Regions from separate parts of the Homo sapiens genome. Here region 1 is linked to region 2. The links come from fine-mapping of genetic effects on gene expression. Tissue or cell type: tibial nerve. Region 2 holds a variant in brackets; the other region holds the start of a gene. All regions are shown on one strand. Distances are from middle to middle.

Region 1 (16,455 bases), 35 kb after region 2:
ATGCACCTGAGGTATGTGCTTCACTGTTGTGCTGAGGATGTGATAGCCTTTTTTTGAGCTAGCTATTTACTCGAAAATGTTTTAACTAGAATCAGCTAAAAACATTCTTAATCTAAAGTCAAGGTTAAAATCTGAGATTTCTCCACTTCCTGCTTGTGTTTTACAATGTTGGTTAGTTTTAGTTTTTCAACTTAGGCATTATTCAAATTAGAAAGTGCTCTGCACAGTTAAAATATTATTTCTTTAAAGGCTGCCTATTAAATAAATTTGTTAGTGAGCCCACTTTTAAATGAACAATTCAGAAGTAGGAACAAGTGTATTTTTTTGTTTTTCATCTTCATGTTCCTGATCTCTAACTCCTTTCAAAAAAAAAGTGGTCAAAACAAAACCACAAGTATCAAGAAGCTAAGTCTTGAAACAGACTGGTGCGGCCCCCAAAGTTACCATGCTTCTATTGTATGATTTCTGCAGCCTATCTTACGTAAGTCATCGATTTAACTTTCAGTTTCATAAGCTAGTTCTGGTTTCATTGTTTTTCTGCTTAACATTTTTTTTTTTTAGACAGAGTCTTGCTCTGTGGCCCCCGAGCTGGAGTGCAGTGGCATGATCTGGGCTCACCACAACCTCCGTGTCCCAAGTTGAAGCAGTTCTCCTGCCTCAGCCTCCCCAGTACCTGGGATTATAGGCGCGTTCCACTGCACCTGGCTAATTTTTGTATTTTTAGTAGAGACAGGGTTTTACCATGTTGGCCAGGCTGGTCTTGAACTCCTGACCTCAGTGATCCGTCTGCCTTGGCCTCCCAAAGTGCTGGGATTACAGGCGTGAGCCACCGCGCCCGGCCTCTGCTTAACTTCTTAAGTGCTGGCCTAGACAAAAGCCTCTGCCCATTTAATCACATTTGAGCCTTTCTTGGGGTCAATAACAAGATCAATAGCCACGTGAGATGTTTAGGTTCCACTTTATTGCTTTTGTGAGAATATTTCAGTAGCAGATCGAAAGAAAAAAAAAGCTATCGTATATTTATGCACACATAAACATATATATGTATATTAAAAGATAATACTCAGGGTTTTAACTTGACAGATCAGAAATAATTATTTAATTCTAGCATTTACAATCACAAAAAGGAGTCAACAATTTGGCGGAATATTTATTTATTTATTTATTTGAGATGAAGTCTTGCTCTGTCGCCCAGACTGGAGTGCAGTGGCGTGATCTTGGCTCACTGCAACCTTCGCCTCCCCGGTTCAAGCAATTCGCCTGCCTCAGCCTCTCAAGTAGCTGGGATTACAGGCACGCGCCATCACACCCAGCTAATTTTTGCATTTTTAGTGGAGACAGGGTTTCACCCTGTTGGCCAGCCTGGCTTCACATGATCTGTCCACCTCAGCCTTCCAAAGTGCTGGGATTATAGGTGTGAGCCACTGTGTCTAGCCAGGGGGAATATTTAAATAAAGCTATAAAACTTGGCCAAGTGAAAAGCTGGAAACAAGAAATCCAGTTACTGTAAAAGATCTATGTCACAGTTGCTTGTATCAAATACTTCCCATAGTTACAATCCAACTTCCTAGATAGCTGATAGGCAATTATGTTTTATTAAATCATTCAAAAACCATTTACAGAATGCCTGCCATATGTCAGGGAAAGCACTATTCTAAATGCTGAGAATACAAAGATCAACAAAAGCAAGGCCTTTGTCTTCTCTAAGGTCATAGGCTGCATCATATCCATGCTCTTAAATCATTCTATTTTATGGGTGGATTTCATATATATTCCTGGTTTAATAAACGATCATCGTTTTAAAATTTGTTTTAGAAGATTTTCATATAGCCAAAATACATACTTTGTATATTAATTTTATCAAGAAAAAGGGAAACTTTTCTGCACAGAAAAAAAAAATTTAAATCATGTGTATTCTTACCACTCAGAGATAATTACTGTTGCATTTTCCTTTAGCATTTTTCCTATGCATTTGATTTTAAGTAATAGAAAACCCAACTCAAACTTGTTTAAACAATGAAGAAAACTGATTGGTACACATCAATGAAGAGTCCACAGGCCAACCGGTGAGGCTGCTTTAGGTGGGGCTTGACCCCACAACTCAATATGTCATCAAGGTCCCTGTTTATTTCCTTCTCTCTGCTGTGGCTACCTTGGTCTCTGCACCATTCTAAGACTGGCTTCTCTTATGGTTCTAAAATGGCTGTCGGCATCTTCCTCTTGTCTAGCAAGAAAGAGAAGATCAGCATTCTCTGCAAAAGTCCTGAAAATTATTCAGCTGAGCTACTTCAGGATCAGTGCCTACCCTGACTAATCATTAAGTGCAAAGGGATGAAATACACTGATTGGACAGCCTACATTAGTTACATCATCTCTGAAGGGAGAGTGAAGTCAACTTCTCTGGAAACATGAATCCCTAAAGAGAAAATGATGCTATTGGGAAGGGGAAGGGGAGTTTTAAAGAAACTAAAAGTTTTTAAACAAAATCTGGCATCGTACTAGACATGTTCAAACAGCACATTTTAAGTCACTCTCTTTTATTTTTCTATGCTTTACTCAACTTTGATTAGACTTTATAGATGGCCCAGTTTCCACTTTTTCGAAGAAGATCATCCTCAAAATTTCGCTAGGGAGTATTTAATAGGCATTAAAAATGATATAAATCTATCTATATGAATAAATTGTTTATGGATTAAAAAGGTATTACTAAATGAGAAGTGACTAAAATCATGTGTATGAAAATCATATGTATAATCCTATTTTTCTTAAATAATCTATATTTGCATAAAATGATACATATATGGTATAATATTAAAGAAGTTATCCATAGGTATGATTTTCACTTTCTTCATTCCTTTCTGTATTATCTGAATATGTTATCATTGTTATTACTTTCATAGAAAGAAACATTAGAAGTACTTCATTTTGGAAAAGATAAAATTCACCAGGAATCCACATGTACATCATATTGCCTCAACATATATCCTACATGACCTTTGTCATTGTATCAAACCATTTGGTTTGTTTCTCCTGTCAATTTTGATCAGCGGGACTTGAGGGAAATCGGGATATCAGTGTGCTTGAAGTTTATAGGTCCCACTTATTTGTAAATGAAAGTTATGATTAATTTACAGTTTTCCCTCCATTATTCTGCATTACTTTTAGCTTTTCTTCATTTTTTCCAGTTAATAGTATAGAATAAGTCAGCATCTCACAGAATGATTAGCAGATATGGCAGTGGAATTAAGTTAGTTTCTCGTGGCGTTCATTGGTAACTACTTCTCTGAGGGTGACTTTTTAATGAAGTCTTTCATCTTTGTTTACATTTTGTTCTTAGAGTTTCCTTCCACAAGCTGCTCTGTGGAAGGAAACCTCACCAATGAGGTTTCCACAAGAAACTTCATCAATTCTGTACGGATGTCTTCTCAAACCATATCTTTATTTCTGCTCTTTCTCTCTCTTTTCTGTTTTCTCCCTAGGGGTCTACCGGAAATCTCTACATACATGTGCTGATGCCTTTATGAGAAGTTTGTTTACAGGACGGGGGGGCTTTTATTCTCATTCTCTGTCATGGACTAGTTGAGTGTTCTTAGACCAACTGCTTAATCTCCTAGAGTCTCAGATGGAGAGGATGATAACTTCAAGAGAGAAAACTGAACTAGAAAATTTCTCAAGGTTTTAGATTTGAGGTCTAAAACCACATTCATTATTTTCTCCTTGAAACTGCTTCTCCCACTGAAATAGTTCTTCCTTTCATTTTCAGGTAACAGAATAATAGAAAACAACGAAATTTTATGGCTGGACAGGATACTAGAAGCTCTCTAGCTCAATTTCTTTTCTTTATTTTAATGGATGAGGAAATACATAAGCTTGTTAAATCCTTCCTTCTCTCTCTCTCTCTTTTTTTTTTGTCGTTTTCAGACAGGGTCTCACTCTGTTGCTCTGGGTGGAGTGCAGTGGTGCGATCTTGGCTCACTGCAGCCTTCGCCTCCTGGGCTCAAGCAATCTTCTCATCTCAGCTGCCTGGGTTGCTGGAACCACAGGTGTGTGCCACCACACCCCGCTAATTTTTTTTTTTTTTAAAGACCAAGTTTTGCTCTGTCACCAGGCTGGAGTGCAATGGCACGATCTCAGCTCACTGCAACCTCTGCCTCCCGGGTTCAAGCGATTCTCCTGTCTCAGCCTCCCAAGTAGCTGGGATTACAGGCGCACACCACCACGCCCGGCTAATTTTTGTATTTTTAGTAGAGATGGGGTTTCACCATGTTGGCCAGGCTGGTCTCGAACTCCTGACCTCAGGTGATCCACCCACCTCGGCCTCCCAAAGTGCTGGGATTACAGGCCTGGGCCACTGCGCCCAGCCTAATTTTTGTATTTTTTGTAGAGATGGGGTTTTGTCATGTTGCTCAGGCTGGTCTTGAATTCCTGGGCTCAAGTGATCTTCCTGCCTTGCCTCCCAAAGTGCTGGGATTACAGGCGTGAGCCACCTTGCCCTGTCCTTCCTCCTCTTTAGCCCTATCAGTAACTGAGTCTCATCAGTTCTCCCTTTTCCTGTCTCTCAGGCCTATTCCATTATTTTTACTGTCATCACCCAAGAGTAGGTCTTCATTTCCTTATGTCTTGGTTCTTCTCCAAGTCACCACACTGTTTTTCTTGCCTTCAGTCTCTCTTTCAACTAATCATGGTACAGCTTCCAGATTACACACCCACAAATAGTGTGATCATTCTGACATGTTCCTGTGGGGAAAGAAAAGTTACATGTTTTACTGTGGCCAAAGGATAAGGTTCAAACTAACCCAAGGAACCTCCTACAGGTTGACCGTAACTTACCTCTGCAGGCCTATCTTCCAGTATTCCCCTGATAGTCAATGCTCAATAAGTATTTATTTAATTGAATTAATCTTCATACTTCCTAAACAAAAATCCTTTTAGCCTTGAGATAATTTAGATCTTCAATTTTTTTTTTAAGTAGTCAGGTTCAAGGGAAACAAAGAAGGCAGTTAAAAGTGAGGAAGACAGAGAACAAAGGAGAAGCAAAGAGAACTGGAGCAGGATCCATGCCTTTTATAGCTTTAATTTCTGCTCATTTTTCCTGCTAAGTTTCAGATCCTTTAACCTACCCTTAGCTTACTGTAATTTTTCTTAATAAGCCACACAATTTTGTATCTTTGCACTAAGATGGCCGAGATGATAGGAAGACACGGAAATTGCCATACAGAAATGTTTAAGATGCAAAGCAAGATAAAAGGTTGTAAACAAATGCTTGTAGATATCTTAAGTGGAAACATATATAAATATTTTAAAATTTGAAATAATTTTTATTTCAAAAGGCTAACTCAATTGCAGGATTTCTTCAGGTTTCAAAGTGGAGCACCATATTTGGGATACTATATATAGGTTTGTTGTCTGATGCCCATGGCAAGTTAATACACTGGGACACCAGGTTGCAGAAGAGAAAGAGGTTTAATCATAGGGCCACCAAACACAGATAGGAGGAAACCTCAAATTCGTCTCCAGGAGGACTTTGAGTCTCAGGTTCTTAAGGGTTTTAGAGTGGTCCCAAGTGTGGAGATCATTAATTGGCTGAAGAGTACAGGGCGAAGTCATGGGACAGCGAGATGAAGAAGCTGTATTCTCATGCTGATTCCCTTCTTCTGTGGCAGGGGTCTTCAAGCTGGCTGGCATCAGCTGTTTCGCTGGAATTTGGCGTCTGAAAAACATTTTAAGCAATTCTTAAAAAGCCTTACGACTCTTAACATCAGAAAGCCTATCTATAGGGACAACGGGATACAAATGTACTATCTAGCTCTACCCGACTTTCGGGTTACAAGGAAGTGGGTCAAAGTGTAGCCTGATTAATGCTTAATTATATTTTTGTCCAGAATTCTTATAAACCCTGTGAGGATAGTTTCAATACCTTTATTTCAAGAAGCTTTGGAAGTTTTCCATCAATGTAACCAGTTTCAGTATACTGAGTGGACATGCATGTAGTTCCCCACCCCCACCCCACCCCCGTACCGCAATAGAATAGAAGCAGTCATGGACGGGGCCCAGATTCTAAAACAAGCTCAGGGCTAAGGGTTTACATTTTAATCTCTTATGTAGGAACGTCAAGGTCACACTGCCTTGGTGAAGGTGGAAGGCAGGATTTTGACCCAGGTCTGATTCTAAGCCCTTGCTTTAAAACTCTATGCTATAAAAAGTCCTGGGCTAACCGGGAGCGAAACTGGCAGATCACACGAGGTTGAGGTTAAGCGGAAAGACAAGTCTGCTCTGCGTCTGTACTTGGGAAGAGGAAAAAAAACTGGACATCCCCCACGGCGGCTACCATTTTGTGGGAGCAGGGAAGCCGGAAGTCCCGCCCCGGAGGATCGCGGCTGGGAGGCTCCCAGCCGGCAGGGCGGGGCCGGGTACCCTGGGGCTCCGAGGCTGGAGGAGGGGGCGGGGACTGAAGGCGGGGTTGGGGAACGTGTGGCTCGGAGGCCCGAGGCTGTGGGTGGGGCCTGAGGGCGGGACGGAGACTCTGGGCTCAAGGCTCCTGGAAATGGGCGGGGCTCGAGGGCGGGAAGCGGCCCGTCTTGCTGGAAGTTCGGGGCTGGGGGCGGGGTCTGAAGGCGGGGCTGGGAGGGAGCGGGGCCTGAAGGCGGGGCGGGGGCGGGGCCTCGCGGCCGGCGAGGGGCTGAGCTGACAGGGCCGCATCGGCTTACCCCACCTTACTTTATCGGAACGTGCCTAAGCTGCTGCAGCTGGCACCCGGTTGCGCTCGGCGAAGAGGGCTGGGGGCGGGAGATGACGGTGGTCTTCTCCCTGCTTGGCACCCTGCGAGCACCAGCTCCCTTCTCCTCGCCACTCCAAGGTTGCAGACGAAGCAGGTGAGAGGGGCCCCTGGAGCGCGGACCTGCTGGGTCCTGGTTCTCCCTTGCGGGCACGGGGTACCCCTGCCTCTGCCCCTCAGGCCTGGGCACGTGGGCAGCCGCCGACCCTCTGCGCCCTGGCCCCGCGGCCCGTTGTCTGGACCTGCTGTCTCTGCCCCGCAGCGCCTGCCTGTGGAACGTGTGAGATCACCCGGGAAGGCTCGCGCGGGGGAGGGGGTGTCTCGTCCCCTCCGGAGACAGAACTGCCATCCCTAGTTTGGGAAGCTCCTCACTGCACGGGCGTCCACCCTGTCTTTCTTAGACTCTTCCCTTTATCCCGAGGGTACCCTCAGTATCTGGCCCTTCCGAAGGCTTCTGCCCAGGCACCTGGAGCACTGCGCCAAATTTTCTCCCTTACCCGTTTTTGGGGTATGTTAGTTACCATGACGTTGTGACTCCCGTGCCCTGGGAAGACTAGCGACCACCTTTTTCTTACGCCAGGCAAAGACCCCTGGCTGCCTTTCCACTTCCACAGCTGCCTTCCCAGGGGTTGGCTGGCAGCTGCTCTCCGAGCAGCCTATTCGGTTAGGAACTCTCTGCGCCCCTTATCTTGGAGGGCCACAGTCTGTCCCTGCAGACGAGGCAAGGAGGCAGTGCTCAGCGCTCCCTACCCTGGGTCTCTAGGGAGGACATTTGGCGCCCTGCAAGTAGGTAGGAGTGGGTGAATGGTGCGACTATTAATGTTGAAGAGTGCTCTAATAGTACCACACTGTATTACACTTATCCCACGGGATAAAGGATGTTGGATGTTTGAGAAATAGCCTGAGAGTTTAAAGCTTTCTCTATGAAGTTAGTCAACCCTCGCCTTCCCCCCGCATTTTCACTTAATAGCAGTTATTTACAGTATCAGTGGTTCGTTTATGTGATCTAAGCCAAATGTGATGTGGCTAGAAGCGGTTTGTAAGTACAGTAGCATTTCTTCAGTTCGTGCCTCAGCGAGTGGTCTTTTACTGTGAACGTGTTTGTTCTGTAACAAGCTTTGTTTTTATAGATAAAAAGGCTGGATGTAATTTTTTTTTTAAAACTTCCCTTGCTGTGGTTCCTGTTCATTTTAAAATATGCTTTAGAAAGCATATTATCTTCCCGTTTAAAAAAGATTAGGATGAAATGAAACTTTTAAAGTCATTTTGATTATTTTGACTTTACCTCAGCAGGTATTTCTTTTATAATACTGAGAAACGTTAAAAGAAACCTCATGGGGAGGGGCAGATTGCTTTTTTTTTTTTTTTTTCTTGAGACGGAGTCTTGCTCTGTTGCTCAGGCTGGAGGGCAATGGCAGGATCTCGGCTCACTGCAACCTCTGCCTCCCGGGTGCAAGAGATTCTCCTGCCTCAGCTTCCCGAGTAGCTGGGATTACAGGCATCTGCCACCAAGCCCGGCTAATTTTTGTCTTTTTAGTAGAGACAGGGTTTCACCATGCTGGCCAGGCTGGTCTCCAACTCCCGACCTCAGGTGATCCGCCCGCCTCGACCTCCCAGAGTGCTGGGATTACAGGCGTGAGCCACTGCGCCCGGCCCTTTTTTTTGTTTTGTTTTTTTGTTTTTTAATTTTTCAACGAATTGAAAGTTAATCTTGGACATTGCTACAACTATTTGACCATCACCCTGAGAAAAATGAAGAGCTCTGCCTTCACTGTTAACCATTTACTATCAAACCAAATTAAATTCAACTTATCTTAATTGTTTGGTATAAAACAAAAACTGATAAATTTATGACGCATCCCATCCCTCTTTTTTTAGTTGGTGGATCTTTTACCAGTTATGTTTGAAGAACTAACATGTTTACTTTTTTATCATTATTAGTAGTAAGACAACAGTTCCTAATAGCAATTGCTGCCGTTTTTTGAAGGCCTACTCTGTGATAAGCTGTATATAAAATATTCTATCCACACAATATCCCTCTAAGGAGGTCTTTGTTTGAGACAGGGTCTTACTCAGGCTGGAGTGCAGTGGTGTGATCATGGCTCACTGCAGAGACCTCCTAGGCTCAGGTGATCCTCCCACCTCAGCCTCCCAGGTAGCTGGGACAACAGGCACGCATGACTAAGCTCAGCTAATTTTTTGTAGAGACTAAGGTTTTGCCATGTTGGCCAGGCTGGTCTGAAACTCCTGGGCTCACACAGTCCACCTGCCTGGGCCTCTCAAAATGCTGGGATTACAGGCGTGAGCTGCTATGACTGATCCCTATAGGGAGGTTTTTACTCTCATTTTACAGTTGAGGAAACAAAGGTTCAGAAAGACTAAGTAACTTATGAGTTGATAAACCATAAAGCTCAGAATCTGTTTGACTCTCCACTGAACTTCTGCTAGTTTAAACTGTTGGTTAAAAAATATTATTGGAATGCCTTGACATGCTCGTGTTGTACAAGTAAGGGCTTATAAGCAGAATGAGTTATTAATACTCTAGGCACTTTTGAAAGTGAACAGAAGACTGGATTAATTTATCACTTTCCTGTTTAGCACTGCCTTTCCAAGTACACACCGTCTTAAGGGCTCCAAATGTTTAACGCCTTTGTTTAATTGTTTACCAGCTCCTTACTTCAAGTATGTGTATCTGTACCAACCGGTAGCTTTCCCAAGATATAATTTGATGCTTATTTGGTAAACTTCAAGTATGTGAGTAGTGTAGGTTTCATGTACTATATTGACCACTGCTATCTAATCCTAGTAGGAAAATACTTGTCCTAATCCAGATTAAATATAAGGTTTTCAAATGGTTCGGTTTATACAAGGGTAGCACAGAGAAAATTCCCTTGTACCCACGCCAGCTATCAGTTGTTGGTGATCTCTGGGCTGCCATCTAAGTCTTTTTAATGTGATATAGATGTTTGAGGACTTAACCTGAGCATTGTAAATTTCTGGAAGCATGAGCTTTTTACTTTCTACCTTATATCAGTCTACTTTAGATGGTAAACCCAGAATAATCACTTAGAAATTGGCTATTGTTGGCTGGGCGTGGTGGCTCACACCTATAATCCCAGCATTTTGGGAGGCCGAGGCGGGCAGATCACCTGAGGTTGGGAGTTTGAGACGAACCTGACCAACATGGAGAAACCCCGTCTCTACTAAAAATTCAAAATTAGCCAGGCATGGTGGTGCATGCCTGTAATCCCAGCTACTCGGGAAGGCTAAGGCAGGAGAATCTCTTGAACCTGGGAGGCGGAGGTTGAGGTGAGCCGCAATCACGCCATTACACTCCAGCCTGGGCAACAAGAACAAAACTCCATCTGAAAAAAAAAGAAAAAGAAATTGGCAATTGTCGTCATTTTAATTTCAAGATACTAATAAAAGCTGATTAGCTTTAGAGTTATCCAGACCTCATGTTCATTGTGTTCCTGGCAGCAAGAGGGGGTCTGATAATTATTGTACTATTCGTGTTTTGAATTTGTTCCATGCTTTAGCATTTTCTGAACCTCTTTAGAACATTTTACAAAACATTTTGTATTTTTTAACATTTCATGAACACCTTTAGACATATTTTGTGTTCTTGGTTCTGTTGCTGTAGTGGAAAACTTATAATACTTTATCATTCAGAAAACAAAAAAAAATTCTGTCTGTAAACTAAATAGTGCCTGAAAGAGAACATTGATCCATGAAAGGGTAAAAGGTTTAAGTATAAGTAATTATAGTTATTCATTAAAAAAAATTTTTTTTTCTGTCTCGTGTATGCCAGGTACTGTCCTAGATGTTAAGGACACAACATTGAGCAAAAACATGCATAGTCCCTGCTTCCGTGACACTTGAGTGAACTGAATGTGCAAAGTCCCTGTGGCACAAAGTCCCTGGGGCCAGTGTGTGTGGCGGGTGTAGAAGGAGCTAAAGGTATATTGGTGGGAGGTCGTCATTTTTTTCTCTCTCTCATGTTCTACCAAAAGTTATATTTAACTTCCGTTAAGTAATTACTCTGTTCCAGATGTGATTATAAAGACTTCAGTGGAATAATCGCAAGTTCCCATGTGGTAGGTATTACTATTATTGCCATTTTACAGGTGAAGAAGGTGAGACACAGAAAAGTTAAAGTTAATTCGTTCAGGTCGGGCACAGTGGCTCATGCCTGTAATCCCAGCACTGTGGGATGCTGAGGCAGGCAGATCACCTGAGGTCAGGAGTTCAAAACCAGCCTAAGCAACATGTCGCTACAAAAATACAAAAATTAGCCGGGCGTGGTGGCACACGAATCGCTTGAACCCAGGAGACAGAGGTTGCACTGAGCTGAGATTGCACCACTGCACTCCAGCCTGGGAGACAGAGCAAGACCCTGTCTTTAGAAAAAAAAGTTATTGGTTTAAAGTTGATTAGTAGTGCTCTACTATACCCTTCTTCCCATCCTATATTCAAATATGACCACGGGCTGGAAAGGACTCTGGTCCCTGGGTGACTCCTCAATGTAGCCTTGAGAACTTCTGAAATTTCCAGAGAATTTGGATGCATGGGGACATTCAGCGGAGACTATGTGTGCCCGATGCCCTTATCCACCAGGCGGAGCTCAATTGATGGAGAGAATCACTGGAGAGAACCACAGGGCATCACTGCAGCTCTAATATTTGCGGATCTTATTTTACTCATGTCTAATACTGAGTATAGAACTTAGCAACATAAATATTTTGAGCTGACCTGCCTTTGAGAGTGAAGCGATTATTGTTAGCAACCCCCCACTTTTTTTTCCATTGTATTTTCCCTGATGGTATGTATATTTATTTGGCCATTGAATAAGTAAATAAATCTAGGGGTATGTATATTTATTTGGCCATTTAATAAGTAAACAAATCTAGGTTTGCCAGTGTATTATTTCAACTAGAATTCTTGTTGATGGCCATACTGAATCTTTCTTCCTTTCTTTCCAGAGATCTGGTTGGAGTTGGAGGGTGAGAGAAAATGAATTCTAATTTACCTGCAGAGAACTTAACCATTGCAGTCAATATGACCAAGACTTTGCCTACAGCAGTAACGCATGGATTTAATTCCACTAATGACCCACCTTCAATGTCAATTACAAGGCTTTTTCCAGCCTTACTGGAATGCTTTGGCATTGTCCTTTGTGGCTACATAGCAGGAAGGGCCAATGTCATAACATCAACCCAGGCCAAAGGACTAGGAAATTTTGTCTCCAGATTTGCACTTCCAGCTTTATTATTCAAAAACATGGTTGTACTTAATTTTTCCAATGTGGACTGGTCCTTCCTATATAGTATCTTAATTGCCAAAGCTTCTGTATTTTTCATTGTATGTGTATTAACCTTATTGGTTGCCAGTCCTGATAGTCGATTTAGCAAAGCTGGACTATTCCCTATTTTTGCTACACAAAGTAATGACTTTGCATTGGGATACCCTATAGGTAAGTTAATTTTTATTTTTCAAGTGTTTAAAAAATTCAATTTTAATTTATTTAGGCATTTGTTAGTAACAGATTCTTACTCTCATATCTAAGAAGTTTTTCATTTTTTTCTCAAATATGTCTTAGGATGAATCATAGTTTTTCCTAAACTTCAGAGTTTGAGGATCCTTTAAACATCTACCTAAAATAAACGGTCATATTCTAATAACCACTGTGAACAGTCCTAATTGTATTTTTTTCTTCCCGGTAAGCACATATGAAAGAAGCTTAATTTTTAGAAAGGATCCAATTGTGATTTAAATTATGTTAAAAAAGTAGATTTATGTCTATATAAAAATAGTTATTATTAAGTGTTTGTGAAAGGAATTTATTTTTCCTACCATCTAGAATATGTATTATTTTATATCAGAAATTGTTCTGGGGCCAGATGTGGCTCACACCTATAATCCCAGCACTTTGGGAGGCCGAGGGGGGCAGATCACTTGAGCCTAGGAGTTCGAGACCAGCCTGGGCAACAGGGTGAAACCTCGTCTGTATAAAAAAATAACAACAACAAAAAATTAGTCAGCTGTGGTGGCACAAGGCTGTAGTCCCAGCTACCCAAGAGGCTGAGGCAGGAGGATTGCTTGAGCCCAGGAGGCAGAGGTTGCAGTGGGTCAATATTATACCACTGTACTCCAGCCTGGGTGACAGAGTGAGACCCTGTCTCAAATTTAAAAAAAAAAATTGTTTTTGAGCTTGTTATTCAAAATTTTAATGTATTTTAGTTGCAGTTAATTTCTTGTTTAAGAAAAAAAATGGTGAGAGCTTTTTTACCTTTCTAACTTTTCCTTTTTTATGTTTCTGACTCTTTCAGCAGCCTAATTTTATGTTTCTATGTGTATATGTTTTACTAATGAAACAGTAAACGTACCAGTTTGGGATATTGACATATCTTGAAAGGAAACATTCTATATTTCAGAACACTCTGTCACCAAGAAAATGTATATTTTAAATTACTTTTTTATATTTTAAATTAAAGTTATATATACTTTGATCATCTATCAAGTATGAGGACTTGAATATTATAGATATATTCATTCATTCATTCATTCACTCACTCATAAGGAACTGTTTCGTACCAGTGGCTGTGCTGACTGTTGGGATTATAGCTGTGAACAAAGTTATTGCACATATTAAATTTACATTGTAATGGGAGAATAATAAAATTAAAATCATGTCAGGTGGTGACAAGGGCCATAAAAATAAAGTCACGTAGAAGGATAGGAATGTGGAGGTGCTATTTGAGGTAGGGTGGTCAATGAAGGCCTCTCTGATGATATGTCTTCTGAGCAGAGACTTGAGCCTATTGAAGGATACAATTGAAATCTACAATTAACTTTCAAGTTTCTTACCTAGCAGTTTTATCCTTTCCCCTCAAACCCCAACTTATTTCACTGCTGGTACCAAAAAGATTCTATTTAACTATACTTTTCACTTCTGTCTCTACTTTTGACTTTCCTCTATCTTGTTACCAGAAAGAGAGAAACACCTAAGAAGTTAAATAACTGTCAGTAAAGCTGGAGGTTTAAGAGACAGGAAAAACTGGGCTCATAGATAATTGAGCTACAAATAGTCAGAAACTAGATAGGTGTTCCTTTAAGGTTATTGAATTTCAAAAGGAAATAAAGACTTTTGGAAAGAAAACAGCAAGGAGTTAACATGTTTGTCCATTTCCTCAGGAGAATTAATAAGGTAAATTTCTCAAGGTATTTATGGTATAAGGACCTTAGAACTGACTCGGCACCACAGTGTTAAATATCTGACAAATATTATGTATCTTTAGACATAAACTAGAAGTATATAGTTTCATGCTCCCATAGATTAGTGAGCCGATAATGAAATAGAACTAACATTTATAACTATGTAGTTTACAGAGTACTTTCTTATATACTTATCTCATTTGGGTAGGGCAGATATTTTTATCCTCATTTTCAAATAAGGAAACTGGCTTACAGAGATTTAATTATTTTATCCCAGGTCATACAACTAGCAGGTGACTGACACCCAAACCTAGGTCTTCTGGTTGCAAATCCTGGGCACTCTCTTATGCCATGCAGTTACATAATGTGCCAGTTCAATTTTCAGAAGACCCAACCAGCCTTGTAATATACTAGTTCCAGAAAAAATGAAAGGGTTTTTTTCCTCTAAAATATTCCATAAAATGAGTAGTAGTGGAAAAAGACCTATTAGAATAGTTAATCTATTGTCATATTGAGGCAGACTTTCCAAATAAAAAATGTAATCAGCCATTTTATCACTGCTTTTCTTATGTCCCACATTAAGTCAGTGAATCTGGTAATAATTATGTTTCTAGCCGTGTGCCAGCCCAAATTTCCCTGATGGTTGTTTGTTGATTTCGAGGTATAATTTTTGTTTTTATGTTTTTGTTTTTTTAAATCACAATAACAAAAGCTCTTGTAATATTAAGTTGTAGAATATAACTTTGCTAAAAACCAATATATTAGACGAGTGCTTTTTCATATATCTAGACGTTGGAAGGTGTGATGTAGAACTATTAGGGGTGAGTATCTGCTGCCTGATGAGGTAACTTATTACTGCTGCTGTGCCCATCTGCCTTCTGGCCTTGTTCTCGGTGAACAGAGAAAGAATACTGTCCCCAGAGAGAAGACCTTTCTGTCTTTTGTTTCCTGGCCTCTCCAAGGAATTCCCACTCTCTTGCTCACAGACAAGCATCGATCATGGGTTATAAGAAATGTCCTTTTTAAGACTGCATTTGTTCCACATCTGTCCAATTTACAGGTAACACAGGAAATGCTGGCAAGGAGAAGACATATAAGTTAATGAACAAAGAAAAAAGATAGTTACGTTTTCTTTCGCTACATACTATGACAACTATAACAGTCTATGACATTACATTAAAATGATGTATTATTACTCCAGTAACAGAATAGTGCATGTTGCAACTAAAAAAGAAGGCTGGACATGGTGGCTCATGCCTGTAATCCCAACATTTTGGAAGGCTGAGACAGAGGGATTCCTTAAGTCCAGGAGTTTGAGACCATCCTGGACAACATAGTGAAAACCCTGTCTCTACAACAACAACAGCAAAATTAGCCAGGTGTGGTACAAGCCTGTAGTTCCAGCTACCTGGGAGGCTGAGCCAGGAGATCTGTTGAGCCTAGGAGTTCAAGGCCGCAGATGGCTACTGTACTCCAGCCTGGGTGACAGTGAGACCCTGTCTCTCAAAAAATAAAAATAAAAGAAGCTCACTGTGTTTTAGAGCAATTCTTTTCTAAAGTACTTTTAAAAATCCAAGTATGAGAAGAAACTAAGAATCTCCCGTGGCAAAATGTTGATTTCAGCATATCAGAATGGTTCCCTGCCTGTCATTAAAAGATACTAATAGAGCATAGTTAAGTCCTATAATTTATTCTTCAAACAATGCTGATAGCATAAGTACTCTGACTAATCATAATTATGGTCTAGTGCTTGAGCTGTAAACAGAAAGGAAATGAAGCATTTAACTATATGCCATTACATAATAGAATGATTTTATCTGGGTCTTTGTGTTATATGCTAGGGATTGAAACCCTGCAGGAATCAAAATAGGAAGCACAGTGGGTGGCTAATTTTGTCTCTTAGTTCTTCAAAGCTATATAATAACTCCTCATAATGGGATTCTCCCTGCCCTCCAAGAGCCTTATTTATAAGCATTAATTAATTAGAACCTAAAAGTTGATATAATGATTGTAAACCTAATTTTAGTTACTATACTATACCGTACTGCTTTCATGTATATTTTTTCAGGTTTTAAAAACCATCTTCAGATTGATAGCAAAAAAAAAGCACTGCCAATTTATAGATAAAGATGTAATGTTAATTATGCAAATGAATGGCAGAAAGTAGACTGAAATTCCCATGTTGAACCCTATTCTAGTAATTTAACATGTATTTATTTAATCACAATTTTTCTGTGTGTTCCCTCTAGACTACACTTCTTCTGCCTCTATGCTTGTTCAGCTGACTTAAAATACCTCAATAGTAACCTGCTTTATAAATATTCATAATGTGTAAAATGTAAAAAAAGTTACAAAATTTCCATTAGATTTATTGTATAACATGGTGACGATGGTTAATAACAACATATTCTTGAAAATTGCTGAGAATAGATTTTGTGTTCTCATCAGAAAAAATGATAAATATG
Region 2 (16,455 bases):
CAGCTCCACTATCTAGGTCCAGGACTTTTTCATCACCCCTAATGGGAACTCCATATTTATTAATCAATCATTCCCAGTTACTCTTTCACTGACGTGAACCCCTGGCTTTTTTTTTTATCTCTATAGATTTGCCTATTTTGGATATTTCATATAAATGGAATCATACAACATGGGGTGTTTTGTGTGTGGTTTTTGTCACTTAGTATGATGCTTTCAAGGTTCATTAATGTGGTAGCACGTATCAGTATGTTGTCATTCCTTTTCATAGATGAATAATATTCCACTGTATGGATATACCACATTTTGTTTATCCATTTGTCTGCTGATGGACACACTGGGTTGTTTCCGTCAATACATACCAAAGTTTTTCTTCCCATTGCACCCCAGCCCCAACTCCCCTCCTCCCCAGTCATCTCTATCTCAGCTGGTGGCACCACAACTGACCCAGGTACTAGGCTCAAAACTTAGGAGTCACCTTTGATTCCTCTCTTTCCCTTGGCCCCACCCCACTTCTGACATCCAAACAATCAGCACATCTCGTTATATCACCCAGATACAGACTAAGCTTGGTCACATTTTACCACTTCCCCAGCTACCACCTAGTCCATGCTACTGTCACCGTGGCCGCAACTCAGTCTTTTTGCTTCTTTTGTCCCCTTCCAATTCATTTCCCCACAGCACAAAATTATCTCTTAACGTAAATCAGATCATGCCACAGCAGGACTGAGGAGCCTCTGATGCTTTCCCATTACACTGAAACAAAGCCTAAACATCATGCTATGGTCAATAAGGCCAGTGTGATATGGCCCCTGCCTACCTACCTCTCTGAGCATCTCCCACACTCTCCAGCCACCCTGGCCTCCCTCTGACCCTTTCCCACATACTCCCTGAGCTTCTGCCTGGGACACATGCCTTCCCCTCAGACCACGTGGCTCCCTCCTTCTCAACATGCAGAGAAGCCTTCCCTGACTCTCGGATCTGAAATACAGCCCTCACCCCAGTCTCCCTCTATCCTCTTAAACTGATGGGTTTTTCCCTCACACAACTTACACAACCATGTGAAACTATATTATTTTTGTCTCTTTATTATCTGTCTTCCCCTACAAGAATGTAAGCTCCAAGAAAGTAGGTTACTTTGCCTTCGGCCAAATCCCTGGGGCCTAGAACAGTACCTAGCATGTACAGAGGCATTCAATAAACCCTTGTTGCTTGAATAATAAATACAATGCATTATACACACACATAGAAAGAGGACTTTGTGCCCAATAAACAAAATATCCATTCTTTGCAAACATCTTTGAACATTTACATGAATAGACCACAGAACACTTTTCAATCAAGTTGGTGAGACTATAAATTAGTATAAGCTTTCTAAGGAATAATTTGATAACATTTATCCAATTTTCAAATGCAAATATCCTTTGAACCAACACCATTTATTGAAAAGCCCTTCCTTTCCACACTGAATTTCATTGGCATATTTGTGATAAATTAAGTAATCCTCTGTGTACGGGTCTATGCCTGGACTCTATTCCATTCTGTTTATCTACTGTCTATTAGATCACTTTCAATGATGATATAAAGGCTCATATGGACCTGAAAAAGGTTTCTTTCCACAGCATTATTTTTTTCTACTAGTCTATGTTGTGGAGCTGGTTACTCTATACAATAATACATTTAGTAAAGATTTAATACTACGGTAATATAGAAAATGTTTTTGGTTTTGAATTTTTGTAAATTAAGGGAACTACCACTTTGCCTTTTTTTTTTTATTTTTTATTTTTTTGAGACAGAGTCTTGCTCTGTCACCCAGGCTGGAGTGCAGTGGCGTGATCTCTGCTCACTACAACCTCCACCTCCCGGGTTCAAGTGATTCTCCTGCCTCAGCCTCCTGAGTAGCTGGGGTTACAGGTGCCTGCCACCACACCCTGCTAATTTTTGTATTTTTAGTAGAGACGGGGTTTCACCATGTTGGTAAGGCTGGTGTCGAACTCCTGACCTCATGACCCACCTGCCTCAGCCTCCCAAAGTGCTGGGATTACAGGCGTGAGCCACCATGCCCGGCCCCCCTTTGCCTTTTACACTGATATCAAATATTCCTTCCCCCTTCCAAAGTTTCCTTAAGGGCATCTAAACAATACATGTTGCAAATAATACTGAAAAGGTACCATGTTGTGAATAGTGCTCAGGTATCCTAAATAAAACATCTTGTAAAACCAACACTTAGTTTGAGAAGTCACAATGCTGAAGCAACTGGTATCTCTGTGGAGATGTAACTAGGACAAGACCTTAAACTTTTTTTTGTGTTGAAGACTCTAGCAGAATAGACTTTTATTTGTCCATTATGCAAATAGGAAAAAGGAGAGAAAGCCAATCCTCTTTTTGATTTGACTGAGAAACCCTGTTAATGTTTATATCACTGGGAACATAGGCATCAACTACATTATCACCAAGGCAACAAACCAACAAGTAAGACTATGAGCCAGAATTACTAATGTTGTTGAAGGTCATGCTTACGCTATATGGCAACAATTTCTAAAATTTCTAGCATCTACAGGACTTCTTTGTTCAATAATAATTTCAATGATAAATTTACTTAAAACAGAAAAAGTGGGTAGAAGTTGGGAATATTTGTGCAAGACTTTATATCACACTGGAAATAAGACTGATGTCTTGTGAGAGTTCACATTTAACATCTTACCTCATCAGATTCTTTTACAAAGTTTTAAGCTATGAAACGATCTCTTTCTCTCCCTCTCTCTAGTTGCTATGGAGAAGAAATATCTTTTTCACCTCTTTATTAGACATTTTTTTAAATTATGAAGTTCTGTATTTTCAGAGCCAGACTCTGATATGTCATTAGTTAGCACTAAAAGCACAGTGTGACCTGTGAGTCTCAATTTTAGAAATGGGAAATGGGTTGTTAGGATTTAACTTGACAGCAGTGCAATTGGAACAATTTATCTTCCATGTTACAAAGAACAAGAGTCAGACTGACATTGGACTTCTCATCAGCAACACTGTGCTATGGTTTGAATGTGTCCCCTCCAAAATTCAGATGTTAGATTAAACCTTGTTGGTCAATGTGATACTCTTAAGAGGTGGGGTTTTTAAGAGGTGGTTAGACCATGAGGGCTTCTCCCTCACAAATGGGATGAAGGCCGTTATAAAACAGGCTTCAGGCAGCTTTCAGCTCTCTTGCCCTTCTGTCTTCTGCCATGAGAGGACACAGCGTTCCTTCCCACTGGAGGATGCAGCAATAAGAGTCATCTTGGAAACAGAGGACAGCCCTCACCAGACAACTGAACCTGCCAGCACCCTGACTGTGGACTTCCAGCCTTTAGAACTGTGAGAAAGTACATTTCTGTTCTTTATAAATTACCCAGTCTATGATATTTTGTTATAACAGCACAATCGGACTAAGACAAAAAGGTACTAAAACACAACGAGGAAATAGCTACTGTTATTGGTAACATGATTATGAACTGCAATAGTGTGGCCAGGCAAGCACAATTAAGTGTGAAGGTGGAATAAAGACACTTTTCCACACATGCAAGGACTTGAAGCAATTACCTCCCATGTGCCCATTTTTGGGAAATTGCTTAAAAATATTCTGCAGCAAAACAAGGAGAAAATGAAGAAAGGGGAAGACCAGTGATCCAGAAAACAGTGAAACAAACCCAAAAAACAGGAAAGGGAAGTTGCAATGTGACTTGCTATGAGGCAAGATGAAAGAGTAACCAGTAGAGATTGGAGGAGAAGGTGACGCCGCAGGAGGAAAGTCACCAGTGAAAAAAGTGTACATGGAGGAGGGGAATGGTTTTAAGTAATAAAATGAAGTAACTGAAAAAAGGTTGAATATATTATAAAGGCAAATGACACAAGAGGTGCAAAAAAAAAAAAAAAGGCAGCTAGAAATACCACAAGAAAAAAAAAAAACCATTGGCCAGAAGTGGTGGCTCACGTCTGTAATCCCAGCACTTTGGGAGGCCAAGGTGGGCAGATCACTTGAGGTCAGGAGTTTGAAACCATCCTGGCCAACATGGCGAAACCCCGTCTCTACTAAAAAAATTCAAAAATTAGCTGGGCATGATGGCGGGCACCTGTGGTCTCAGCTACTCAGGAGACTGAGGTGGGGGAACTGCTTGAACCCATGAGGTGGAGGTTGCAGTGAGCTGAGATTGTGCCACTGCACTGCAGTCTGGGCAACAGAGGGAGACTCCATCTCAAGAGAAAAGAAAAAACAAAACAAAACAAAAACATAATTTTTTAAAAAGGAAATGAAAGCATAATGTGCCCCCTTGCTTCCAATGTAAAGAGAGACCTGCTCTCTAGGAGTAAAAATTTAGTGTTGCAGTGTAATGGCTCATCAAATTGAATAAAGTCTGTGTAGATTAGGAAAGATCTTCAAAATTAGGCTCTGAGATGTGTACCCGTGGTCTGAGAAGCACCAGAGAGCCACAACTTGTTCTTAAGGAAGAGAATGAAAAGTTAAAGGCAGCATTTTAGGCAAGGTAGCCTGGCAGTAGGAGAGGAAGGAGGCCAAGTGGTATGTCTGTTGCCATTTTCCAGGTATGAGGTGGAGGAGTAAACCCACAATAGGGAAGGAAAAAACAAATCAGGAAGGCATTCCAAAGGAGGATGCTATAGGACCCAAGTACCAGGATTGGATAGAGGAGAGGGGATGGTTCCAAAGTTTTCTGGTCTGTGAACCAGGAAAATGGTGAAAGCTTTTATCTAGTATTGCTGTTTGATCATTGTACACATACTTTTCAGCCTCATTCTTGTCCTCCTCCTTCTTCTTTTCCTCTTCCTCTTCACAGGTTAATTTTAGGCTCCTTGAAGGCAGAGCCTAAAGCCTGAGTGTGTTTTATTGACAACCAGCTCTGAGGCCTACCACCATAGGCACTCAGCTGATGCGTGTGGTTGATGGTGGTGGTGGTGATGATGATGTCACAGTGCTTTATAGATGGGGAAAATGGGGAAGAGGAGTCATTTGGGGCATAATGATGATGGGGCCGGGTGCAGTGGCTCACACCTGTAATCCCAGCACTTTGGGAGGCTGAGGCAGGTGGAACACCTGAGGTCAGGAGTTCAAGACCAGCCTGGCCAACATGGTGAAACCCCGTCCCTACAAAAATACAAAAATTAGCCGGGCATGGTGGTGGGCACCTGTAATCCCAGCTACTCAGGAGGCTGAGGCGGGAGAATTGCTTAAACCCGGGAGGTGGAGGTTGCAGTGAGCCAAGATTGCGCAACTGCACTCCAGCCTGGGTGACAGAGCGAGACTCAGTCTCAAAAAATAATAATAATGATGATGATGATGATGGAAATCAAACTTAGTAAGATGCCAACTCCTACTGGGAGATGGAAAAAATACTTTTTGAAATAATTACTGCTACTTCTTGTTTAATGAAATTCCTTATTTTATGTTTCCTTTCTTTAGCATCCTTTACTTAATGCCATGTCTACCTATGTAGAATTAAAACCAAGCAGTATTGGGAGGTCTGAGCACAGTCAAGGAAACTCACTTCCAAATTCTTCTTTCAACATATGTTTTGGCTGAAAACAAATGCACTCATTTTTAGGAAGCAGAACTACTTAAGCAAGATCCAGCCTACGAGCATGGGTGTTCTACATCTTGTTTTGTTCCTATTTCTGAAGACCAAAAAAAAAAAGCATTATTTTCAAAGGAAGCACTAGGTGGCACTTGTGATGTATTCCACAGTTGCCTCCGATCCTTTTTGAAAAAGGTTTGATAGAAAAAAAAATGCAATAAATATTAAAATGGGAAAATCGTCATTACAATAATGAAGATCAGCATGATTGTGTTTACTATGTTACTATGTATGAGCAATATCTTTATGCAGTATTTGCATTTAAAATCTGAGCTTTGCTTTCTTGATAAAAACTGCAAGACGGGAACTGACATTTCTATAACATGTGAAAACCCCACATCGCTAAAATAATAAGTAAAAATGTAATGCCTGGTTTGCAAAAAGATTGACTATAAATCTTCTTTTAAATAGTTTCTGTCTTCCATTTAGAGTGTTTGAATTTGTAAAAACAGATAACAGAATAAATTTTTCAAGGTCCATCTATTGTGAAAAGCAAAATTTAAAAAATCATAACTTGAAATAAGGCACTGCAGCTTCCAGGTTTTGACTAATATTAACCAAAAAAAACAAAAGAAAGAGAAAGAAAGAGAGATGAAGATTAAAGCAGATATCTCAGGGTTTTTACCATCTTTAAAGTAATAACGTAAAGACTTTAAGCAAATGTATTCTTTTCTGTTATTCAGTTAGTTCCCATTTGGCAACTGCTTAATTATCTCATGGTCCCATTTCAATGTCGAGAGATTGCAAGCTTTTAACAGAAATTCAGGTTGAGAAGGAACTATGAAAAATAGAAAATATTGTTGCCAAATACCATGGCAACAACTGTAGCCTGCAGACCTTTTCACGATACTGCATCTTTCCCCTACCTATTGTCTAGCCTTGGCAGTAACCATTTTTATGGATTAGGTTCTCTTGTGGCTTCATCTCACTTTTCTACCTCTTATTCTTCCTTTGTTTCATTTTTGTTCCTTATTTTAAATGTTTTTTTTCTTGCCATACCTCTGTAGGATAATTTAACACAATGAAATCCTTTTGGAACAAGCTGGGTTATAAATAAATTAATAATAATGCTAATGTACTGTCTTGTAATTGCACTAATGTGTGGGTTTGGATGAAATTGACATTTTGAAGGTAGTATCTCATATAGTAGTAAACTCAGCATGTCAGAACTCAGAGCTAAATATGCAAAACAGCGACAGTGCTGAAAAAAATCTTGGATCTCGGTGTAATAGTTGAATGTCTTTGGATGCAAATGATGGAAATGGATTCTGACTAACAGAAGCAAAAAGAGACTTTTAACAGGGTGCTAGCTAGGAACTCAGGATAGATGGGAGGCTGGAGAGCCAAATCAGGACACAAGACAGGAATGAAGGCAATTCCTGGAGTCCAGGCAGCATGAACAACTGAAGGATCTTATCTGGGTGCTGCTCCTCCAGTATATGTGTTCCAATATTTTCCCATTCCTTATGCGCCTCCACTCAAGATGAAAAGTTCCAAGAGTACAGTCTGCTTGATGTTTGCTGGGCATTCACAGATTTATAGTACTAAAAATATGTGAGACCAGGTGCAGTGGCTCATGCCTGTAATCCCAGCACTTTGGGAGGCCAAGGCAAGAGAATCACTTGAGTCCAGGAATTCGAGACCAGCCTGGGCAACATAGTGAGACAGTGTCTCTACAGATAAATAAATAAATAAGTTAGCCAGGCGTGGTGGTGCACATCTGTAGTACCAGCTACTTGGGAGGCTAAGGTGGGAGGATTGCTTGAGCCAGGGAGTTCAAAACTGCATACAGTGAGTGGTGATCGCACCACTGTACTCCAGTCTGAGTGACTGACAGAGATCTTCTCTCTCTAAAAAAAAAAGGAAATTTAGTATGGAATGAAAGCTCTCTTGAAAGTTTGCCAAAACATAAAATAGCATACATTTGGGAAAAGAAGTTATCCCAGGAGTCCAGTTGTCTTACTTTGGGTCACATGTAGCTCCTTGGTTGCAGAGAGGAGATGAGAAATATTGAGTTACATTCCGATCAAGACTGTCCTCCAACTGGAAGATGCAATAGGAAATTGGGGTACTCCTGGGAAGGGTGCTCTTGGTTGCTGGCCACCGAAAAAACAACGTATGTGCATTACATTACAGCAAGAGTAGATTGTAAGTTTCTGTGTTGTATTCTAAAGCTCTAGCGTGGGGCAAGTAGTGTCTCTGAAAAGTGCATATCCATGCAGAACCTCAGAATGCAACTTTGTATAGAAATAGAGTTACTGCTGATGTTATTAGTTAAGGATCAAGACGAGACCTCACTGGATTAGAGTGGACCGTAAATCTAATGATTGTCTTTATAAGAGTCAAAACAGCAAGCACAGAGACACACAGAGAAGCAAGTGATGTGAAGACGGAGGCAGAGATTGGAGCAATGCACCCACCAGGCAAGGAACACCAAGGATTGCCGGGTCGCCAAAAGCTAAGAAAGAGGCATGAGGAGGTTTCTCCCTCGGAGCTTCTAGGAGGAACTAAGCTTACCCACACTTTGATTTGGGACTTCTGGCCTCCTGAATGGTGACAGAATACATTTCTGTTGTTTTAAGCTACTCATTTTGTGCCACTTGGTTATAGCAGCCATTGGAACCTAATGCAACCCCTAAGAGCAGATTTTTTGGCAAAACCCTAAGAAGTAAAACCATGAGAATAAGCACATGGTAAATGCATTTTTGTGACTGTGAATACAAATGCATTTTTGTGACAGTGAACCTAATGCAACCCCTAAGAGCAGATTCTTTGGCAAAACCCTAAGAAGTGAAACCATGAGAATAGGCACATGGCAAATGCATTTTGTGACAGTGAATACATTTTGTGACAGTGTATTCCTTTTTATTTCAAAAGAGAATAAATCTATGAATGGTTTAGTTCATTTATGCCACAAAGAGCTATTGAGTCCCTCTTATGTGCTGGGACATTCTAGGACCTGGAAATACAGGGGTGAACCAATGGGACAGACTCACTAATCTCAGAGGGCTTGTACTCAGAGG[G/T]TTAACAGTAAACAAGACATATTGGGGTTGAGATCAGAGCCAAGAGGAGAGCAAAGCCGGATGATGTGACCTAACATGATGGACAGGAAGTGGGGAGCCCGTTCAGATTGGTGGTCAGGCAAGGAGAAGAGAGCTGAGACCCAATAATCATGAGGAGTCAGACATTCTTGAGCTGAGGGAAGGGCATTCCAGGCAGAGGGAGCAGAGAGAAACTGCAGCAGAGGGACCATTGACAAGCAGAAGGAGATAAACTGGAAGATGTAGGCAGAGACAGTTCATGACTTACTTTCTAAGACACATCACAGAAGTGGAGAATCTTTTTTTTTTTTTAAGACGAAGTCTCGTTCTTGTCCCCCAGGCTGGAATGCGATGGCGCCATCTCGGCTCACTGCAACTTCCGCCTCCCGAGTTCAAGTGATTCTCCTGCCTCAGCCTCCCGAGTAGCTGGGACTACAGGCATGCACCAGCACGCCCGGCTAATTTTTGTGTTTTTAGTAGCGATGGGGTTTCACCATGTTAGCCAGGCTGGTCTCAAATTCCTGACCTCAGGTGATCCGCCCGCCTCAGCGTCCCAAAGCGCTGGGATTACAGGTGTGAGCCACCGCACCCGGTAGAGAATCTTAAGCAGGAGAGTAACACCTGCTGATTTAAACATTTAGTGGGTCCACCTGCTACGTGGGAAAAAACTGCAGTGGGGCAAAGCGGGTAGGGTGCATCTGGGAGGCTAGCACAGGCCAGATGAGAGTAAATGGGGCTCAGAATCAAGTAGTTAGTGAGCTGGAGAGAAGTGGGCTAATTCTAGATATGTGTGAGGTAGAGTTTGACAGGACTAGTAATTATTAGTTAAGTGCCTTTTCTTGGTCCACCGTTACTTGAAATTCTATAAGGGAATACCTTATAGAAAATATTATATCACTAAGACTAATATTCAGGAGGTTTACATTAAATTGAACAAAAAAGATGGTATACATATGACATATTTATAAAATATATACAGACTCAGAATGCCTTAGTGTGTGATTGATAGAGGCAATAAAGGTAGGAAAGAAGGCCTCTGTGCCGATAAAGGTAACAAGGAAGGCTCCATGGACTTCAGATGGGCCTTTGAAGATACATGAGACAGGAGAGCATTCCAGGGTGGATTAGGCATGAACGAAAGAAAAGAGAAAAGTGGACAATGATTGTGCAATATTTAGGGTGGATGAGTAAACTGATTTGATCAGATTAGAGAGCTTAGATACAGTAAATAATGCCAATAAAATTAGGTCAGTAAAGTGAGGATAGATGATAGAGGACTGAAATCCAGGAGGAGTTTAGATTTAATCTTTTAGGCTGGGTGCAGTGGCTCAGGCCTGTAATCCCAGCACTTTGGGAGGCTGAGGCAGGGGGATCACTTGAGGTCAGGAGTTCAAGACCAGCCTGGCCAACATGGTGAAACCTCAACTCTACAAAAAATACAAAAATTAGCTGGGCGTGGTGGCATTCACCTATAATCCCAGCTACTTGGGAGGGTGAGACACAAGAATCACTTGAATCTGGAAGGCAGAGGTTTCAGTGAGCCAAGATCACACCACTGCATTCCAGCCTTGGCAACAGAGCAACACCCTGTCTCAAAAATAAATACGTAAATAAAACAAAATAAATTTACTCTTTTATGCCAGGGATCTGTAAGCTTTTTCTGAAAAGGGCTAGGTGGTAGATATTTTTCGTTTGGAAGACTATGCAATCTTCATCTCAACTCTCAACTTTTTCATTGTAGTGTGAAGGCAGCCATACACAAAACTTTGAAAATAAGCATGGCTGTTTCAATAAAGCTACTAATGAAAACAGATAGGCTGGGTGTGGTGGCTCATGTCTGTAATCCCAGCACTTTGGGAGGCTGAGGCAGGCGGATCACTAGGTCAGGAGATTGAGACCAGCCTGGCTAACCCGGTAAAACCCCATCTCCCCATCTCTAGTAAAAATACAAAAAATTAGCCAGGCGTGGTGGCACTTGCCTGTAGTCCCAGCTACTCGGGAGGCTGAGGCAGGAGAATCGCTTGAACCTAGGAAGCAGAGGTTGCAGTGAGCTGAAATCGCGCCACTGCACTCCAGCCTGGGTGACAGAATGAGACTCCATCTCAAGAAAAAAAGAAGAAGAAGAAAGAAAACAGGTGGCTGTGGGGCATGGTGGCTCATGCCTGCAGTCCCAGTGACTCAGGAGGCTGAGGTGGGAGGATCCCTTGTGGCCAGGAGTTTGAGGTTATGGTGAGCTACGATCACACCACTGCACTCCAGCCTGGGTGGTAGAAGGAGAACCCATCTCGAAAAATAAAAAAAATAAACAACAACAACAACAAAAACACTGGCAGATTGGACTTGGCCTTTGGGCTAGAGCAGTAGAGCAATAAAATAAAAATGGTGTTTTATTAGGATTTTTGAAGTAACCACGTACAAGGGTAGTGGGCATTTTTAGCTACTTGGCATCCATTTTCCCTGTCCTTGGTCCACACTCTGTCCAGGTTTTCCATCAGATGCCTACTTCTCTCACATGTTTAAGGAGAATCTGATTGCACTCCCAGCTGTATGAGTCGAAGTCCATCAGGTTATCCTATCTCTCTTTCCACAGTATTGGTTCATACAACCCAGACCTAAGCCAACTAGTGCATGCTCTTTCGCAGGCACAGATGTTGATTCAGGAAGGGCATCTGGCAAATGTTGTCTAGTAACATGCAAAGGATGTTCACTGGGGCTTCTAGAAAGACACTTTCTTACTTTTCTGAGAGCCACCACAGAGGACACTCTCTCCTCTTCTGGGCAGAATGGTATAGGGATATGAAACCTGAATCTCTAGATTCATTTTGCCACTCTGAGAGAAGCAAGATCTAGAATGAAGTTGACAAGACTGAAGACAGAGAAGAGAAAGGTAAAGAAGGCAGGTCTTGTATAACATGGCTGAACAACTAAATTAAACCTCCCCTGAAGCCTATCATACCTTGGACTTTTTAGCCAATAAATCACTTCCATTGCTTACATTTGTCTGAGTTATCTATCCCTTGAAATTGAAAGTATTTCATTGTCACAGCGAAATCACATGAAATGAGGAAATGCTGAAGGGAGCTGGAGCAGACAGGAGACTAGGCACAAAGTGATAGCATATGAGATGGCAGTGAGAAGGAGAAGAGGGACAGCCTGAGTCACTGGAAGGGGAGAATTCATTTGGAAGTCTAAACTATATCAATGTGACCAGCATGTCCTCGTTAGATAAGAGACAAAGAGAAAAACTTAAGAAATATAGCTTCCTTTCCCCACCACACCTCACCACCTCATCACTAAAAGCCTGTTTATAACTTCTTTCTACCCAATACACCATGCTTGGCTATCACGAAAAAATTACAAGGCATACTAAAAGGCAAAAAACACAGTTTGAAGAAACAGGCACCACAGGAATGTTGAAGTTACCAGAGAGGGAATTTCAAATAACAATAATTCACATGCTAAGGGCTCTACTGAATAAAGCAGGCAGTGTGCAAGAACAGATGGACAATGTAAGCAGAGACAGAAATCCTAAAATAAACAAAAACAGGCCAGGCACGGTGGCTCATACCTGTAATCCCAACACTTTGGGAGGCCAAGTAGGGTGGATCACCTGAGGTCAGGAGTTCAAGACCAGCCGGGCCAAAATGGTGAAACCCCATCTCTACTAAAAATACAAAAATTAGCCGGGCGTGGTGGCACACGCCTGTAATCCCAGCTACTTGGGAGACTGAGGCAGGAGAATCACTTTAATCCAGGAGGCAGAGGTTGCAGTGAGCTAAAATCACCCCATTGCACTCCAGCGTGGGCAACAGAGCGAGACTCTGTCTCAAAAAAAAAAAAAAAAAAAAAGAAATGTTAGAGATTTTCAAAACACTGTGACAGAAATAAAGAATGTCTTTGTGGGGCTTGTTAGCAGATTGGACATGGCTGAGGAAAGAATTTCTGAACTTGAGACTACGTCAGTAGAAACCTCTAAAACTGAAAAGCAAAGAGAACAAAGACTGAAAAAAAAAACCCCAAAACAGTACAAAATATCCAAGAACTGGGACAACTACGAAAGGTATAACAAACTCATAATGGGAATACTAAAATGAGAAGAAAGACAGAAAAGAACAGAAGAAATATTTGAAAAAACAATATCTGATAATTTCCCCCAATTAATGTCTGATACCAAACCACAGATCTAGAAAGCTTGGAAAACCCCAAAGAGGATAAGGGCAAAAAATCACTCCTTGCCATATCATTTTTTTTTTTTTTTTTGAGACAGAGTCTCGCTCTGTCACCCAGGCTGGAGTGCAGTGGCCCGATCTCGGCTCAATGCAAACTCTGCCTCCTGGGTTCAAGCAATTCTCTGCGTCAGCCTCCCAAGTAGCCTCCCGCCACCACGCCTGGCTAATTTTTGTATTTTTAGTAGAGACGGAGTTTCACCATCTTGGCCAGGCTGGTCTTGAACTCCTGACTTTGTGACGCCTTGGCCTCCCAAAGTGCTGGGATTACAGGCGTGAGCCACCATGCCCGGCCACCATATCATTTTTATATTACAGGTAATCAAAGGAAAGAAAAATTCTAAAAAAGCCAGAGGGAAAAATATTCTTACCTACAGAAGACCAAAGATAAGAATTATATCCAACTCTAATCAGAAATTATGCAAGCAAAAAGATAGTGGAGTGCAATATTTAAAGTGTTGAGAGAAAAAGACCACCAACCCAAGATTCTGCAACCAGAAAAATTATCCTTCAAAAGTGAAGGAGAGGCCAGGCACAGTGGCTCATGCCTGTAATTCCAGCACTTTCAGAGGCCAAGGCAGGTGGATCACTTGAGGCCAGGAGTTCGAGACCAGCCTGGCCAACAGGGTGAAACCTTGTCTCTACTAAAAAGACAAAAAATAGCCAGGTGTGGTGACACATGCCTGTAATCCCAGCTACTTGGGAGGCTAAGGCATAGAATCACTTGAACCCGGGAGGTGGAGACTGCAGTGAGCAGGTATTGCACCACTGCCCTCCAGGCTGGGTGACAGAGCGAGACTCCATCTCAAAAAAAAAAATTTTTCTTTCTTTCTTCCTTCCTTCCTTCCTTTCTTTCTTTCTTTCTTTTTTTTTTTTTTTTTTTGAGATGGAGTTTTGCTCTTGTTGCCCAGGCTGGACTGCAATGGTGCAATCTCGGCTCCCCACAACCCCCACCTCCCAGGTTCAAGCGATTCTCCTGCCTCAGCCTCCCAAGTAGCTGGGACTACAGGCACCCGCCACCACACCCGGCTAATTTTGTATTTTTGGTAGAGACGGGGTTTCTCCATGTTGATCAGGCTGGTCTCAAACTCCCGACTTCGGGTGATCTGCCTGCCTTGGCCTCCCAAAGTCCTGGGATTACAGGTGTGAGCCACCATGCCCACCCAACTTTTATTTTTCTTATTCTTAATTGACCTAACAGGTAACAGTTCATTCAAAATAATAACAGAAATAATGCATTCAATTGTGTATGCTTATGTATATGTTCGGTATATTATACATATATGCACATTATATATTACATATATATCATAGTCTATATGTACTTATATATGTGAAATAAATGACAGCAATTATGTAAAGATCGGGAGGGAGGAATTAGGATTATTTTGCTCTTATATGATACTCACTCTACCTGTGAAATGGTATAGGGTTATTTGGAAGTTGGCTTGGATTAGTTGTAAAAGTATAATGTAAACTCTAGAGCAATCACTATAAAGAAGTGACAAAAGAAGTATAGCCAAAAAATAAGAGAAAATGGAATAACATAAAAGGCTTATTTAAAACCATAAAAGGCAGAAAAAGAATGACAGACAAAAAATAGATCCCCGCTGGCAAGGGGCATGGAAAGAAAGAGAAGAAAAGAAATAAGCTTAACAAATAGAAAACAGTAACAAATATGGTAGATGTCCATCAGACTATATCAATGATCACTTTAACATCAATGGCCTAAATATACCAATTAAAAGACAGTGATTGTCAAGGTGGTTCATAAAAGACTTATCAATATGTTGTCTATAAGAAACCCACTTTGAATATAAAGACATGTAAATATTAAAAGTAACAGATGGAGAAAGACATACCATGTTAATACTAACAAAAAAATTTGAAACACTGACAGCACCAAATGCTGATGAGGATGTTCAGCAACAGGATCTCTCCATTCATTGCTAGTAGAAATGCAAAATGATACAGCTACTTTGGAAGATGGTTTAGTCGTTTTCTACAAAGCTAAACATCCTGTTACCAAACAATCCAGCAGTTGTGCTCCTTGGTATTCACCTAAAGGAGTTGAAAACTTACGTCCTTACAGAAACCTGCACACTGATGTTTATAGCAGGTTTATTCATAGTTGCTAAAACTTGGAAGCAACCATGATGTCCTTCAGTAAGTGAATGAATAAGTAAACTGTGGAACATCTAGGCAATTTTGCTATGAACCTAAAACTGGCTCTAAAAAGTAGTCTATTTTTTAAAAAAAGAGTTTTAGGAGGGGAAATCATGATCAGATTTTTATTTTTAAGAGGTCACTCTGGCTTCACTGACCCATGTGGGTGGAAATAAAGAACAAAAATGGGTGTAGAAGAACAGTTAACTGCAGTGGTCCAGGTGAGAGATGGTGCTAGTTTGGTCTCAGGTGGCCGCAAAGGAGAAGATGAAAACATGCTGGCCCTAGAGGGGAATAAGATTTACAGACGTGTCTCTCCGGAAGTCGATGAACTGTTTGGCCTTAGTTTCCTCATCTATTAAAAGAGAGAGAGAAGAGGACTATGGGAGTTGGCCAGAGGTCTTCATGATTTAGGGATAACCTATCACTGAACCAAACGTAAGGCAAACAGAATCAACTGAATGCTTGAGTCAGACATCTTTTCCTTTGTAATGGCAGCCCTATATTAGACAAGAGCAGTATCAGGCAGATGATGATTTTTATGAGATAATTTTGAAAACATAACTTCCTGGACACTCTTCAAATATAACGACCCACTTCTTTATTATCCTAACTGTGCTAATAGTGAATATTAAATATGATAATATTATCCAATATGAAAATAGCCATTGAGAGACACAGACAATATGTGGAGAGGTTCCAAACTACTTCAAACAGGAGTCCCAGAAGTGAACAAAGGAAATGGAAGAGAAGTGCTATTTGAAGAGATAATAGCTAATACACTGATAGACTTTGACAAAGGCAGAATCCTTCAGATTAAAAGTAACAGGAGGTACAGAGCAGGAAAAGTGAAAGTAAACTTACACCTACACATTACGATGGAACAACAGAAAATCAAAGCTGAAGAGGAAAACTCTTAAAGCTCCCAGAAAGAAAGTAGAGATTGCTTACAAAGGAATGATGATTAGATGGACCCCTGACTTTTCATCGCCAAAAACAAGTGCCAGAGGACAACCGGTAATAATGGAAGTTAGTGCTGATGATAAATAACCATCAACCTAAAAATCTGTACCCACATAAACTATCATTTAAAAGCACCTGAGAACTATAACTGAAAGACCATTGATGAAAAGGACATAGTATAGAAAAATAATAATAACAGCAAACACTTATTGAATACTTACTATATGCAAAGATAGTGTTCAAAGCCCAAAAGTCATTTAATTCTCACAGCAATCTTGAGGGAGCTACTATAATTACCCTGATTTTACACAAAAGAAAACTGAAGCACAGAAAGGTTGAGTTACTTATCCAAGATCACACAGCTGTAAAGTGGCAGTCAAGGCTCTACACCAGGCAGCCTGGCTTTGAAGCCTGTGTACGTCCTCACCACTCCCAGAGCCC

Direction of the effects. Positions count from the first base shown, and alleles are read on the strand shown. Sizes are in standard deviations (SD) of each study's normalised expression.
As copies of T replace G in region 2, the expression in tibial nerve of the gene that starts at base 6,716 in region 1 goes up (large effect, 1.2 SD a copy in GTEx).

What was found. PIP is the estimated chance that this variant, and not a neighbour inherited with it, causes the effect.
Region 1: it holds the start of GPR155, and the variant in region 2 is fine-mapped to the expression of GPR155 in tibial nerve (GTEx, PIP above 0.99). The same link has a PIP of 0.9 or more in esophagus muscle.

Annotation. Positions count from the first base shown.
Region 1 is chr2:174,477,290-174,493,744 of GRCh38, reverse strand. It overlaps GPR155 (G protein-coupled receptor 155), which reads left to right and starts at 6,716. Exons shown (of 16, transcript NM_152529.7): 1 at 6,716-6,872; 2 at 11,758-12,248. The coding sequence starts at 11,789. It overlaps GPR155-DT (GPR155 divergent transcript), which reads right to left and starts at 6,357. Exons shown (of 3, transcript NR_183819.1): 1 at 6,329-6,357; 2 at 4,831-5,710; 3 at 943-4,737. RefSeq lists enhancers at 3,826-3,925, 7,096-7,165 and silencers at 6,576-6,755, 7,019-7,201.
Region 2 is chr2:174,511,988-174,528,442 of GRCh38, reverse strand. LOC124906097 (a long non-coding RNA gene) reads left to right here. Exons shown (of 3, transcript XR_007087309.1): 3 at 5,447-7,220. It overlaps LOC124906096 (a long non-coding RNA gene), which reads right to left and starts at 5,026. Exons shown (of 4, transcript XR_007087308.1): 1 at 4,770-5,026. The variant G/T (reference allele first, on the strand shown) is at 8,642.